Linked DNA regions of Homo sapiens. The protein of the gene in region 2 interacts with the protein of the main gene of each other region in a biochemical or structural test. Each region holds a gene or a part of one and is shown on either strand. Other genes may lie near its edges. The genes, in order: NFYB and TAF12.

Evidence for each region.
Region 1: the proteins of TAF12 (region 2) and NFYB form a complex in vitro, tested with the Homo sapiens proteins (one study listed by BioGRID).

Annotation. Positions count from the first base shown.
Region 1 is NC_000012.12:104,118,568-104,121,210, forward strand, and holds part of NFYB (nuclear transcription factor Y subunit beta), read right to left. Parts: intron 1,913-2,643; coding exon 1,833-1,912; intron 1,203-1,832; coding exon 1,170-1,202; coding exon of another isoform or gene 1,165-1,169; 3' UTR 1-1,164. UniProt on the Homo sapiens protein: Component of the sequence-specific heterotrimeric transcription factor (NF-Y) which specifically recognizes a 5'-CCAAT-3' box motif found in the promoters of its target genes.
Region 2 is NC_000001.11:28,618,737-28,622,567, reverse strand, and holds part of TAF12 (transcription initiation factor TFIID subunit 12), read left to right. Parts: intron 1-402; coding exon of another isoform or gene 403-486; coding exon 487-654; intron 655-3,831. UniProt on the Homo sapiens protein: The TFIID basal transcription factor complex plays a major role in the initiation of RNA polymerase II (Pol II)-dependent transcription.

The DNA.
Region 1 (2,643 bases), on a different chromosome or scaffold from region 2:
CAAAAAGAATAGATGAGAAAATACAAATCCTCACTTTTCAAAAAGAAACAATCCAAGTACATACTACTAAATTATACAAAGTTACATTATTTACGTTTAGTTTATTGCAGAGATGAAGACAGCATACTAGAAGTTGGCTTCTATTTCACACCGTTCACAGCACTCACTCTGTTCTCCATTTCATCCACTCACCCATGCAAAAGGTCTGTACACGCAATGATGTCTGATGTTTCTTGGTTTCCATAGTGTAACAGGAAACTTGACATTTCAATTAAAAAGGTAAAATGAAGACATTTACCATCAGACTATAAAACTCCTCTTCTGTAAGAGAATACTATAGTACTTGAAGATATGATTTGAAAAAAAATCATGTACCAAATGAAAGGGGCACCATTTCAAGAGCACTAGGACTACATTAAACTTAAATATATTCCCACATTCTTAAAAATGTAACTCAAAACCAAATCTAGTCTTAAAAAAGCTCCAGTAACTAAAACTACATTAACAGGCACGATGAACAGTGTAAACACTGTTAATGGGCACCAAGTTTAACAGGGCAGACAATATTTGCTTCTGCATTCACACTTATTCAATTACATTTTTTAAAAAAATGATGCTGCTTAAACTATTAATGTTTTACCAAAAAAATAATAATTTTAATAAATACAGCAAATGCTAGAAATCTAGCTAGGTTATCATGCAAGGTATAACCAAGACAAACTCAAATTTATAATAAAGGCAACTTGCATTCAAAATGAACTCTACCCTTATATTTTATTAAAAGGGCAAACATCATGAATTAACCCAGCCGCTTACTTGAATTACAAAAGTAACATGATTCAATATGAAAATAAGAAACTGTCTACAAATCTCTGACAGTAATAAATTGCAATATACAATGCATACAGGAGTCATACAGAGCAACAAACTCTCGTACAAAACAAAAATATTTTAATACCTTTAAAATCCAAATTTTTCTTTAAAATCATTCATGAAAAAGATTCTCAAGTCAGAATTAACACCTCAATTAGTCAAGCATCAGGAAGCTACATTACAGCTATTAATATACAAAGATACATCTTTTCACCAGTCTTTCCTTCTGATGTCTCTGTTCCAGAATCATACAGACTCTCATTTCTCTACACTCCCCATTCCATCATTTCTTCAGATCATGAAAACTGAATTTGCTGAACACCAGAAATCTAAGATTAGAAAATTTAAATTGAGCAGAATTAAAGAAAAGGAGATTAAAAGTACCATATGCATATTATAAAAATTCAGTGAATAAAAAGACAATAACAAGTCTAATTCCCATTTCTTGTGTATCTTTCTAGAAATCTCCTATGCAAATATGAACATATGCTTATTTTTAACTATTAAGAGAACACTATATACTGTTATCTACATTGAGAAAACACAATTTTAATAACCTTCTTTATCAGGTCCTTAATAGCATGTTGAAATTAACTATATCAATAGATATAATAAAAAAAAAATTTTTTTTTTGAGACAGAGTCTCACTCTATTGCCCAGGCTGGAGTGCAGTGGTGTGATCTCAGCTCACTGCAACCTCCACCTCCAGGGTTCAAGTGATTCTCCTGCCTCAGCCTCCAAGCAGAGGGGATTACAGGTACACGCCATGACGCCCAGCTAATTTTTGTATTTTTAGTAGAGACAGGGTTTCACCATGTTGGCCAGGCTGGTCTTGAACTCCTGACCTCAGGTGATCCACCCACCTCGGCCTCCCAAGGTGCTGGGATTACAGGCATGAGCCATGGGGCCCTGTCGATACAATCAAATTTTTTAAGCATTTAAAATACAAAGGACTGTACCTGTTGATATGATGTTGTGTAAACCATAACATTTTGTTGTTGACCGTCTGTGGTTATTAAGCCAGCTGGTAACTGGTTAGCTAAAAGAAAAAAAATTAGTTAAAGAGGGAAATGAACTATATCTACTTTCTTGGGTTGTATCTTAAGGTTGTACCATTAATGTCTCATTACAATTCTGCCCGGTATCAATGATGTAGTCTTGGACAAAATAATAAATCCTCCAATTTTCCATTTTAAAAAATGTTCCCTAAAAACCACATTATTTTATATTGCGTTTTTCAATTTTCCTATCTCTAACATGTACCTTAGCTAACTGCCCATGTGTACAAATCTGTAGACAGACTGGATGAAGTTTCTGATTCATGATTAAACTACACTACACCATGAGGTTTGGCTAGGAGCAACATATAACTGAGCAGCATATAGTTTACATATGAGAAATATATATAATGAGAAATTTACTCAACATAGCCCTTTTATTTCACCAATATGACAACATGATACTCAATTTAAAAAAAACTGAGTTGAAATTTATTTAAATCATAAGATTTTATATTACAAACTTTTCCTTAATATTCCTATCTCATATGAATCTTCACCAAAAACTAGGGGCTACAGAACTCAGTCAGAACTATCAGTGAAAGGTTATAATGTCTACAGAATTAAACTTTTCTACACTTATCACTCACTGACTTCAAATAAAAGGGCATGAACTGATAAGAACTATTTAAAATAGTGCTTTGTCAAAATACTCACTGCTGACATTCCAAAAATACCATTAGATACTTAGTATGAATCATTGCTAACAATC
Region 2 (3,831 bases):
CTTGCTTCCTTGTTTAAATTTTGTGGACTATTTCACTTAATATTTGGAAATGAGATGGTTTCTAAATATCAGCTGAGAGTAATAAACATTCTTCATTCCCTCAATTTTTAACCTGTGGATATTAAATGGTCACCATTCCATATATACTGAAGAACCCTCAAAGTCTAACAGACCTCATTTTACTTACTTTTTTTTTTTTTTTTTTTTCTTGGTAGAGACTAGGTCTCGCTATGTTGCCCAAGCTGGTCTTGAACTACTGGGCTCAAGTGATGCTACCACCTGGGCCTCCCAAAGTGCTGGGATTACAGTTGTGAGCCATTGCACCAGGCCTCTTTTTACTCTCAAGATTCATCCTTTATTACAGGTTCTTCTAGAGCTAATTCTTGTGCTTTTCTTCTCCAGTTAATTGGCCTTGGTCCTCACAGCTCCAAAAAGAAACAGGATCTCGATAAGCTCTATGAGCTGAAGTCCAAAGCTCGGCAGATTATGAACCAGTTTGGCCCCTCAGCCCTAATCAACCTCTCCAATTTCTCATCCATAAAACCGGAACCAGCCAGCACCCCTCCACAAGGCTCCATGGCCAATAGTACTGCAGTGGTAAAGATACCAGGCACTCCTGGGGCAGGAGGTCGTCTTAGCCCTGAAAACAATCAGGTATCATCCTCTTACTCTTTCTTCTCTGTAGCCACTTCTTACCTATTATTTCAATCTGTAATACTTTAAGAGATGTCCATCTCAGATGCTGCTTTTTTCTCTTAGCCGAAAAGGTCTTTTCCCTCTTTTGGATTTCTAACTTTTTTTGTTTGTTTTAATATAAGTAGAGAGTTTATTTGGGCCAAATTTGAGGACTCCCAATTCAGGAGACACAGATTCAAGTTGTCCTGAATGTATACTCCTCTGGGAACATTCTTTAGCAAATTATCATGTACAATGTTTATTAATTACTGTATTGTATGTGGTTGTGTGTATGCATATATACATCCATCCATCCATCTGTACACACTAACACAATACCTTGCCTATGAAAGGTGTTTTTTTCCTTTCATTTTGATAAGTGCTTTATATACATGTTAACCATGTAGTTGTTAAATAAAATAATAAATTGATTCATTATTCCTATGATAAAAGTACTCTTGCTTCTAGTCATTCCATCTTCTAGTTCATCCAATTGCTGCCATTATTAATTTTCTGCAGTGATTCTAAAATCTGCTCCATTCTTTCTACCCATAATTCTGATTCTGCCCTCCAGAGCCACAAGAAATAAGTATAATCCCTTTGACTTGTTTTTTGTAGGCTGTGTAGAATGGATGAGTTCGCCCAGTATTTCAAGGGAATGAGTGGAGGGACTTGCAAAGATTAATGAGAGCGGGTTGGGCAGTCAGGATATCAACCTATGTTGAATATGGAGTCTGTTGTAGAAGACAGAATTTAAAATTGTATAGGTAGGGCAGAACATAGTGGACCTGTACTAGTCAATTTCCATTGGAACTTTTAGGCAATATACAATCTTTGCAGATATTTAATAAAGGAGTAAAAGTAACATAATAAAAATAGTGTGTCCTATAGAGGATTAACTTGGCAGTAAGGGGACAGGATGGGTAGAAAAGGGGGTTAGACTGGGTGGATGACCAATTCTAAGATTTTTGCAATAAATCAAGACATGTAGTGAAGGCTCGAATTAGGTGATAATGATAGAATGAAGAAGAATGGATAGATATGAGACATCATTAACAAATATTTATTCATTTTTTTTAGAGAAAGGGTTTTGCTCTGTTGCCTGGGCTAGAGTGCAATGGTATAATCATAGCTCACTGTAGCCTCAAATTTCTGGGTTCGGCCGGGCATGGTGGCTCAAGCCTGTAATCCCAGCACTTTGGGAGGCCGAGGTGGGCGGATCACGAGGTCAGATCAAGACCATCCTGGCTAACACGGTGAAACCCCGTCTCTACTAAAAATACAAAAACATTAGCCAGGCGTGGTGGCAGGCGCCTGTAGTCCCAGCTACTCGGGAGGCTGAGGCAGGAGAATGGCGTGAACCCAGGAGGTGGAGCTTGCAGTGAGCAGAGATTGCGCCACTGCACTCCAGCCTGGGCGACAGAGCGAGACTCTGTTGCAAAAAAAAAAATTATTTTCTTGGGTGTGCGCGGTAGCTCACGCCTGTAATCCCAGCACTTTGGGAGGCCAAGGCAGGCGATAACCCAAGGTCAAGAGTTCGAGACCAGCCTGGCCAATATGCTGAAACCCCATCTCTACTAAAATTACAAAAATCAACCTGGCATGGTGGTGCACACCTGTAGTCCCAGCTACTCAGGAGGCTGAGGCAAAAGAATCACCTGAACCCGGGAGGCAGAGGTTGCAGTGAGCCGAGATTACACCACTGCACTCCAGCCTGGGTGATAGAACGAGATTCCGTCTCAAAAAAAAAAAAAATTTTTTTTCTTTTTTCCTTATTTCAAAAGTTATATGTGTTCATCACAGAAACTTCAGAAATACACAAAGAATAAATAGCCTATAATTCTAATGCCACCACCCTAAAATAGCCATGGTTAGCATTTTAGTGTATGTCTTTTGGTGTTTTTCTTTTTTTCCTCTGTCTGTCTCTCTCTCTTTTTTTTTTTTGAGACAGAGTCTCGCTCTATCACCCAGGATGGAGTGCAATGGCATAATCTTGGCTCACTGCAACCTCCTCCTCCCAATTCAAGCTATTCTCCTGCCTCAGCCTCCCTAATAGTTGGAATTATAGGCACCCACACCATGCCCAGCTAATTTTTGTATTTTCAGTAGAGACAGGGTTTCGCCATGTTGGTCAGGCTGGTCTCAAACTCCTGACTTCAGGTTATCCACCCGCCTCAGCCTCCCAAAGTGCTAGGATTACAGGCATGAGCCACCGTACCCGGCTTTTTTTTTTTTTTTTTTTTTTCAGTGGAATTTTACTAGAAGGTTTAGAGCAGGAAAGAAAGGAAAGTACACTTGGAAGAGACTCAAATGGGCACTGAGGAGGTCAAGTGCCTAACTTTTTCTTTTTTCTTAATTTATTTTTTATATATTTTTTAGATTTTTTTTTTTTTTTGAGATGGAGTCTCACTCTGTTGCCCAGGCTGGAGTGCAGTGGCGCAATCTCGTCTCACTGCAAGCTCTGCCTCCCGGGTTCACGCCATTCTCCTGCCTCAGCCTCCCAAGTAGCTGGGACTACAGGCGCCCGCCACCACGCCTGGCTAATTTTTTTTTTTGCATTTTTAGTAGAGACAGGGTTTCACCGTGTTAGCCAGGATGGTCTCAGTCTTCTCACCTCGTGATCCGCTCACCTCGGTCTCCCAAAGTACTGGGATTACAGGCATGAGCCACTGCACCCAGCCATTTTGTAGATGTTTTTTTTAAATAGAGATGCAGTCTCGCCATGTTGCCCAGGCTGGTCTTTGAACTCCTGGGCTCAGGTAGTCCTCCCACCTCGGCCTTCCAAAGTGGTGGGATTACAGGCGTGAGCCACTGTGCCAGGCCCTTTTTTTTGTTTGTTTCTTAAGACATGAGGTCTTCCTGTGTTCCCCAGGCTGGAGTGTAGTGGCACAATCATAGCTCACTGCAGTCTCTAACTCCTGGCCTCAAGTGATCCTCCTGCCTCAGCCTGCTGAGTAGCTGGGACTACAGGCACAGATCACTGTGCCTGGCTTTCTTTTGATTACTTTTTAATGGCATACGTATGTAACATGACATTTCCTTTATGAAGGCTGCCCTCAGGGAGCTTTTAGCCTATTAAGTCAGAAACAGGGAAGTATATAAATATGCACAATGATAAAGGGTACACAGGATACAGTAGAGGCCAAAGGAGGAAGT